2 linked regions of the Homo sapiens genome follow. The protein of the gene in region 2 interacts with the protein of the main gene of each other region in a pairwise test. Each region holds a gene or a part of one and is shown on either strand. Other genes may lie near its edges. The genes, in order: NMD3 and YTHDF3.

Evidence for each region.
Region 1: the proteins of YTHDF3 (region 2) and NMD3 interact in a two-hybrid assay, tested with the Homo sapiens proteins (one large-scale study listed by BioGRID).

The regions. Positions count from the first base shown.
Region 1 is NC_000003.12:161,245,098-161,248,922, reverse strand, and holds part of NMD3 (60S ribosomal export protein NMD3), read right to left. Parts: intron 2,588-3,825; coding exon 2,475-2,587; intron 1,666-2,474; coding exon 1,593-1,665; intron 1-1,592. UniProt on the Homo sapiens protein: Acts as an adapter for the XPO1/CRM1-mediated export of the 60S ribosomal subunit.
Region 2 is NC_000008.11:63,185,497-63,189,321, forward strand, and holds part of YTHDF3 (YTH domain-containing family protein 3), read left to right. Parts: intron 1-650; coding exon 651-2,249; intron 2,250-3,825. UniProt on the Homo sapiens protein: Specifically recognizes and binds N6-methyladenosine (m6A)-containing RNAs, and regulates their stability. M6A is a modification present at internal sites of mRNAs and some non-coding RNAs and plays a role in mRNA stability and processing.

The sequences.
Region 1 (3,825 bases), on a different chromosome or scaffold from region 2:
CACTCCAACCACGCTGTTAATTCCTAATTTATCAACTAATAAAAGTACAACTGGGCAGGTGGTCGGAGTCCTTGATTTGTCATGGCTCTACTTTTTTTGCTCACTGCTAAAGAAATCAATGTTTATTCTAAAAGATTAAGCAAGTATAGAAGACAGGGTCTTTCACACTAATTTCATTCAGTTTCTCATGATTCTTAACCTCATCATGTTAGAACTTAACAGATTTTTCAGAATTAATAGTTTTTTTCCAAGGCTTGATACTGTGAAGATTATTTTTCACGGATATTTTATTCAGCTTTGAATAACAGCCTTAACTCTAAATGCCTTCTTAACTGAACAATGTATGTGAAACGAAGTGAGCCTAATAAAAATGAACCTGAAAAAATGCTAAATGTCATCATTTTTAGCTGCAAATTTATTTATTTATCTTTTGGAGACGGAATCTTGCTCTATCACCCAGGCTGGAATGCAGTGGCATGATCTTGGCTCACTGCAACCTCCACTTCCCAGGTTCAAGCAATTCTCCTGCCTCAGCCTCCTAAGTAGCTGGGACTACAGGTGCATGCCACCACGCCTGGCTAATTTTTTGTATTTTAGTAAAGATGGGGTTTCACTGTGTTTTCCAGGCTGGTCTCGAACTCCTAAGCTCAAGCAATCCACCCACCTCAGCCTCCCAGAGTGCTAGGATTACAGGCATGAGCCACCGCACCCGGCTAAATTTATTTTTGCTCTACAGATAATATCAGGTATTTTGATCGAGAATGAAAATGTGATTAGAAAAGGAACAATCACAATAAATCTTGGATTTACCCCACCAAGAAAAATTATTTAAAATGAAGCCAGGCATGATAGGTGACACCTGTAATCCCAGCTACTTGAGAGGCTGAGGTGGGAGGATCACTTGAAGCCAGGAGTTCGAGACCAGCCTGAGCAACATAACAAGACCCCGTCTCTACAAAACGTGTTTTAAACATTAGCTGGGAGTGGTGGCATGTGCCTGTAGTCTCAGCTACTCAGGAGGCTGAGGTGGGAGGATTACTTGAGCTCAGAATTTTGAGCTGCAGTGAGTGATCATGACACTGCACGCAAGCCTGGTCAATAAAGCAAGACTCCCATTTCTTTTTTTTTTTTTTGAGACTGAGTTTTGTTCTTGTTGCCCAGCCTGGAGTGCAACGGCGCAATCTCAGCTTACCACAACCTCCACCTCCTCGGTTCAGGCAATTCTCCTACCTCAGCCTCCCAAGTAGCTGGGATTACAAGCTTGCACTACCACGCCTGGCTAATTTTTTTGTATTTTTAATAGAGACAGGGTTTCTCCATGTTGGTCAGGCTGGTCTCGAACTCCCAACCTCAGGTGATCCACCTGCCTAGGCCTCCCAAAGTGCTGGGATTACAGGCTTGAGCCACTGCACCCAGCCTCCTGTTTCTTTAAAAAAAAAAAAAAAAAATTTTGCTATTATACCTTATCTGCAGTTTCAGAAATCTCTAAATTGATTTGTTATTTTCAAAAGTGTGAACTCCTACCTCTTACCCCTAAGAGTTACATTCATCCTCTTTAACACAGGAAAAAAGGGAAAAATCTAAAGCCTTACCACATCTGGAACTCTATCTGAGTTCATTTTGTTGACATGCTCATCATTTAAGTTACAGTTGGCCAAATCAAACCTGAAATGTAAACAATGAAAAACTTAGTGACCATTTACCCTTTGTGTGTAACTTTTTATTTTATGGCTATCACCTAAAACTTCCTAAAAATCAAACATTTAATATGCTTCTCACTTTAAAAGTTCTGTCATTTATTACACAATGAACATGCTTCTGTAGATGCTGGTAAAGACAATAAGGAACTCTGAGTTTCACTTATAATCAATTATTGTCCACCTTGCCATACATTTGTAAAAGCAAAACAGACTTACATATCAGTCCAACTTTAGAATTCAATTAGTTGCTTCCTTCTAGTTTATTTTAAACAAACAAACAAAAAAAAAACACCTCATTCTGTAGTAAAAGAAACTGAAATCCTAAAAGCAAAAGCAATATTTGAGGGTTTAATCACACACTCACTGAAAAACTCTGATTCAGAAAGAACTGATCTATGCCTTTACAAGCCCTTTGTATATATATAGTTGTCATATCTTAAAAGTGAGTTATCTGAGCAGTAGCAACTGCACAATAAAAAAGACCCAATCTGCAAAAGCAGTTCTAAATATGGATACAACCATATAACTTCAAGGCTCAATTAACAAAATCTTACAACAAATTACTCTTTAAGATTATAACCAAAATGGAGTAACTATGGGCTTCTGTCCAACCCAGTTTAATTTAGTTATCAACAATAAAATGAGTTATAAGGCTCCTAAGAACCCTTCGATCTTTTTAGAATAAACAATGTTAGTATTTTTAGGTAGTTTTGCTGGTTCCCAAAGAAAATTTGCAATCCTAATTGGCAGTTTAAAATATGAAATAATACAAACCCTAACACCAGGTCTCCGGGATTTAGAAGATGTCCCAAATGAGTACGACAAAAATACTGTTTATCTGTATTCATTTCAGATGTCTTCTGTACCCAGACTTCCCCGAGGGTATGCTTAAGAGGAAAGAAAATGTACTCTTCAATAATCTAAACATAACTCTAAAAGCATCTCAGAGAAAAGTTAAATACAATATTGATTTTTGGTTTTCTAATTTTTAAAGACAGAAAATTTTTTGTATTTTTCTGATGTATGAAACACTGTCAAAATTAACAAATTACTGAATCATGAGTATAGAAAGACTCACAAACAATTCATAAAAATAAATCATTGACTTTTTCTAAGATTTTATTCAAGACTTTTATAAAACATTAATAATGTCCCTAAAAATATATATATGTAGAATTTTCAAAAGAAATGTTTTCACAGGAAGATGGGCCAACATAGGCAGAGTGAACAAAATAACTGAAAAGGTAGGGGAATCTTAAAGCAAGAACGTATTCCAAGCAAACTCTTGCTTGACACAAGGGTTCAGAAAATCAGGGTCCAGACAAAACAGCCTAGAAATCCTGGTAGTAAACCACTAGAGAGGCCAAATCTTTATCAAATTAATTTTTAAAGTATCTACTAGTGTAGACTACAATCATTCTCTACATCTGCTATATATAATATAGTACATCTGCTATATATAATATATATATAGCAGAAACAACATCCCAATTTTTAAACTAGAAAACTATTAATTCCCTTTCTAACATGCCAACACCTTTAACAACAAAGACAGACCAACTGAAGTGAGATCGAGAGAAAAATACTAAGAGTTATAAATAAAATTAAGGAATCTCAAAATAAAGTTATGAAAAGAATCAAGTGTTTCTTATTGCAGTTGGTCAAAGAAAAAGAAATGAAAAAAATGAAAAGAAATAGAGCAGAAGGAGAAACTGAAATAAAAGACAAGTCTCAAACTTAAGAACTGCAAAAGAAAAGTCAATTAACAGGGAGACTACATTTTATTTAACAGGATTTACTTTCTAGCTATTAGACTTCTGCTTGTAAGAAATTTATTAACCTCTTCTAGCTATTTTTTAAAAACCAAGAAAATACAGTATCTGGTTTTATATCTGCCTGAAGGGAAATGATACTCTACATTTATTATAAATGAAAAGTTTGCCCTAAGTACATTACCTTAATTTATAAATAAAATGTAGAATGTCATCTGTCTTCCATTTCCATTAATTTTTCCCAAATTATCACAAGTTATTTTTGTCTCAAGAAGCATTATTAGCACGCACACACACACACACACACAAGGGTACCCTGGGAGTCTCTAGATACTATTTCACAGTAAAAGAAG
Region 2 (3,825 bases):
AATAAGAAACTATGATAAGGAATTTGTTTTATGTCTTTTTTTGAAATGAACAAGGCAAAGCAAAACAAAAAGAAATTTGCATCATGCTATAAACGTAATCTTGAATCTTCTCAAGACTGTGAGCATTTCTCCATTTTTTCCTTAATGAAAGTACAAAATCTAATGGTTGAACTGGATTCCATCATATAGATAAGCTGTAATTCCTCTATTATTCGGCAGAGTTGTCTAGTTTATTTAATCCTTGTGTGTAAGTGATTGCATACATCAATTGATTAAAGTACAGCTGGCTGTAAATGGTAATTTTGTGTCCACAAAGTTTATATATTAGCCTTTTGTAGAAATTATGATATTTTTAAATTGTGACAGAGGGCCTGGCTCTTCAAACAAAAATAATACTCATTATACCCCCACTCTCATCCCTGAAAAAAGCCATATAGGTTAGTTTGTAAGAAATATTTTAAGATGTGACTACTCATCAGCAAATTTTTCTGTTGATAAAACTGGATTTGAAATTTTAATTTTGTTTATCTAGAATAGGTACATCTTTTATTTTCATTTACTTAAAACTTCTTGATTTTAATCTTTCAGATTTCTTTTTTTGCTCTTTTAAGAGGACATTTCGCTACTGATTGTGATATTTTGTTTTGCAGAGTAACAGCTATCCACCAATGTCAGATCCATACATGCCTAGTTACTATGCTCCATCCATTGGATTTCCATATTCTCTTGGGGAAGCAGCGTGGTCCACAGCTGGAGACCAGCCTATGCCATATCTGACAACCTATGGACAAATGAGTAATGGAGAACATCACTATATACCAGATGGTGTATTTAGTCAACCTGGGGCATTAGGAAATACCCCTCCATTTCTTGGTCAACATGGATTTAACTTTTTTCCTGGTAATGCTGATTTCTCTACATGGGGGACAAGTGGATCTCAGGGACAATCAACACAAAGTTCTGCTTATAGTAGCAGTTATGGCTATCCACCTAGTTCTCTTGGGAGAGCTATTACTGATGGACAGGCTGGATTTGGCAATGATACTTTGAGTAAGGTGCCTGGCATTAGCAGTATTGAGCAAGGCATGACTGGACTGAAAATTGGTGGTGACCTGACAGCTGCAGTGACAAAAACTGTAGGTACAGCTTTGAGCAGCAGTGGTATGACTAGCATTGCAACCAATAGTGTGCCCCCAGTTAGCAGTGCAGCACCTAAACCAACCTCCTGGGCTGCCATTGCCAGAAAGCCTGCCAAACCTCAACCGAAACTTAAACCCAAGGGCAATGTGGGAATTGGGGGTTCTGCTGTACCACCACCTCCTATAAAACACAACATGAATATTGGAACTTGGGATGAAAAAGGGTCAGTGGTAAAGGCTCCACCAACCCAACCAGTTCTGCCTCCTCAAACTATAATCCAGCAGCCTCAGCCATTAATTCAACCACCACCATTGGTGCAAAGCCAACTGCCTCAACAGCAGCCTCAACCACCACAACCACAGCAGCAACAAGGACCTCAGCCACAGGCCCAGCCTCACCAAGTGCAGCCTCAACAGCAGCAGCTGCAGAATCGCTGGGTAGCTCCTCGTAACAGGGGAGCAGGCTTCAACCAGAACAATGGAGCGGGCAGTGAAAACTTTGGTTTAGGTGTTGTACCTGTCAGTGCTTCACCTTCTAGTGTAGAAGTGCATCCCGTGCTGGAAAAGCTAAAGGCCATAAACAACTATAATCCCAAAGACTTTGATTGGAATCTGAAGAATGGACGTGTGTTTATAATTAAAAGCTACTCTGAGGATGACATACATCGTTCCATTAAATACTCTATCTGGTGTAGTACTGAGCATGGTAATAAGCGTTTGGATGCAGCTTACCGTTCCCTGAATGGGAAAGGCCCACTCTATTTACTCTTCAGTGTGAATGGCAGTGGACATTTTTGTGGAGTGGCTGAAATGAAGTCTGTTGTGGACTATAATGCGTATGCTGGTGTCTGGTCTCAGGATAAGTGGAAGGGCAAATTTGAAGTTAAATGGATCTTTGTCAAAGATGTTCCCAATAACCAATTACGGCATATTCGCTTAGAAAATAATGACAACAAACCGGTTACCAATTCAAGGGACACTCAAGAGGTACCCCTAGAAAAAGCTAAGCAAGTGCTTAAAATAATTGCTACTTTCAAGCATACCACCTCAATCTTTGATGACTTTGCACATTATGAAAAGCGTCAAGAAGAGGAGGAAGCCATGCGTAGGGTAAGAATATAGTAATTTTTTGTTTGGGGTCTTTGTATTGCTGGTGGGGTGCATGGATGGGTATATTCTGAGTTTAAGAACTTTCTGTGAAGGAAACCAACTACTTAAGAAACAACTCTACAAACACCCTTGAAGGTATCTATGTGTGTCCTATATGAACCATTTCTTCTTTCCTTTCCCAGGGTAACTCACGCTGAGTTAGCCTCTTGCTCATTCTTCATACTCCCTAGATGATAAAGGCCATTGGGCCTCAGTGTTTATCATCAAAGCTGAATGAATTTTGGCATTTGTAACTAAACAGACTTCATGAACTAACCAGGGGCTCTAATCATTAATATTATTAATCATACTAACATAGGAGAAAATATATTTAGAGTTTGAAACAACTTTTTTTTTGAGATGACATCTTGCTGTGTTGCCCAGGCTGGAGTGCAGTGGCTATTCACAGGTGCAGTTATGGCGTATAGCCTCAAGTTCCTGGCCCCAAGCAATCCTCCTGCCTTAGACTCCCAAGTAGCTGGGACTACAGACCTGTACCACTGAACCTGGCACTTAAAACAAGTTTTTATTTATTTATATTTTATATATTATTTAATTTTTTTTCAGACAGGGTCTCTCTTGTCCCGGCAGGAGTGTACTGGCGTGAACATGGCTCACTGCAGCCTTGATCTGCTGGGCTCAAGTGATCCTCCTACCTCAGCTTCCCGAGTAGCTGGGACTACGGTCACACACCACCACGCCTGGCTAATTTTTGTATTTATTGTAGATAGAGGGTTTCACCATGTTGCCCGGGCTGGTCTCCTGAGCTCAAAGGATCTGCCCCTACCCCTCTGCCTCCCAAAATGTTGGGATTACAGTCCTGAGTCACTGCACCCAGCTGAAACAACTTTTAAATAAATGTTTTACTCTAATTTTGTGTTTATAAGAAATTACATATATATATATATATATATATATTTTTTTTTTTTTTTTTTTTTTTCTTTTGTGAGATGGAGTCGCTCTCTGTCGCCCAGGCTGGAGTGCAATGGAGTGGTCTTGGCTCACTGCAACGTCCGCCTCCCGGATTCAAGTGATTCTCTTGCCTCAGCCTCCCGAGTAGCTGGGATTACAGGCACACGCCACCATGCCTGCCAAATTTTTGTATTTTTAATAGAGACGAGTTTCACCATGTTGGCCAGGCTGGTCTTGAACTGCTGACCTCGTGATCCGTGCGCCTCGGCCTCCCAAAGTGCTGGGATTACAGGCATGAGCCACTGTGCCTGGCAAAATATGTTTTTAAAACATAAAACTCTTGAAGTATTTTTATAATTTTTATACTTAAAGCACTTGTACAAAATAGAGGCTTTGCAGAATTTGATTCCTAATTCTGTTATATACCCTCTGTAAGATTGAGGGAGACATTCCTGAAATAAAACATGCTGTTTATCCTTGTATTATATTGGCCAGAATATTTTTATTTTTATTTTTTAAAAATATCCTATTGAGTGGCCCATATGGGGATTAGCCCCCCAAATATTGGCTAGACTTTGATCACAGGGCCACAAGAGTCAGTTCAACTAGGGAAAGTTTTCTCTTC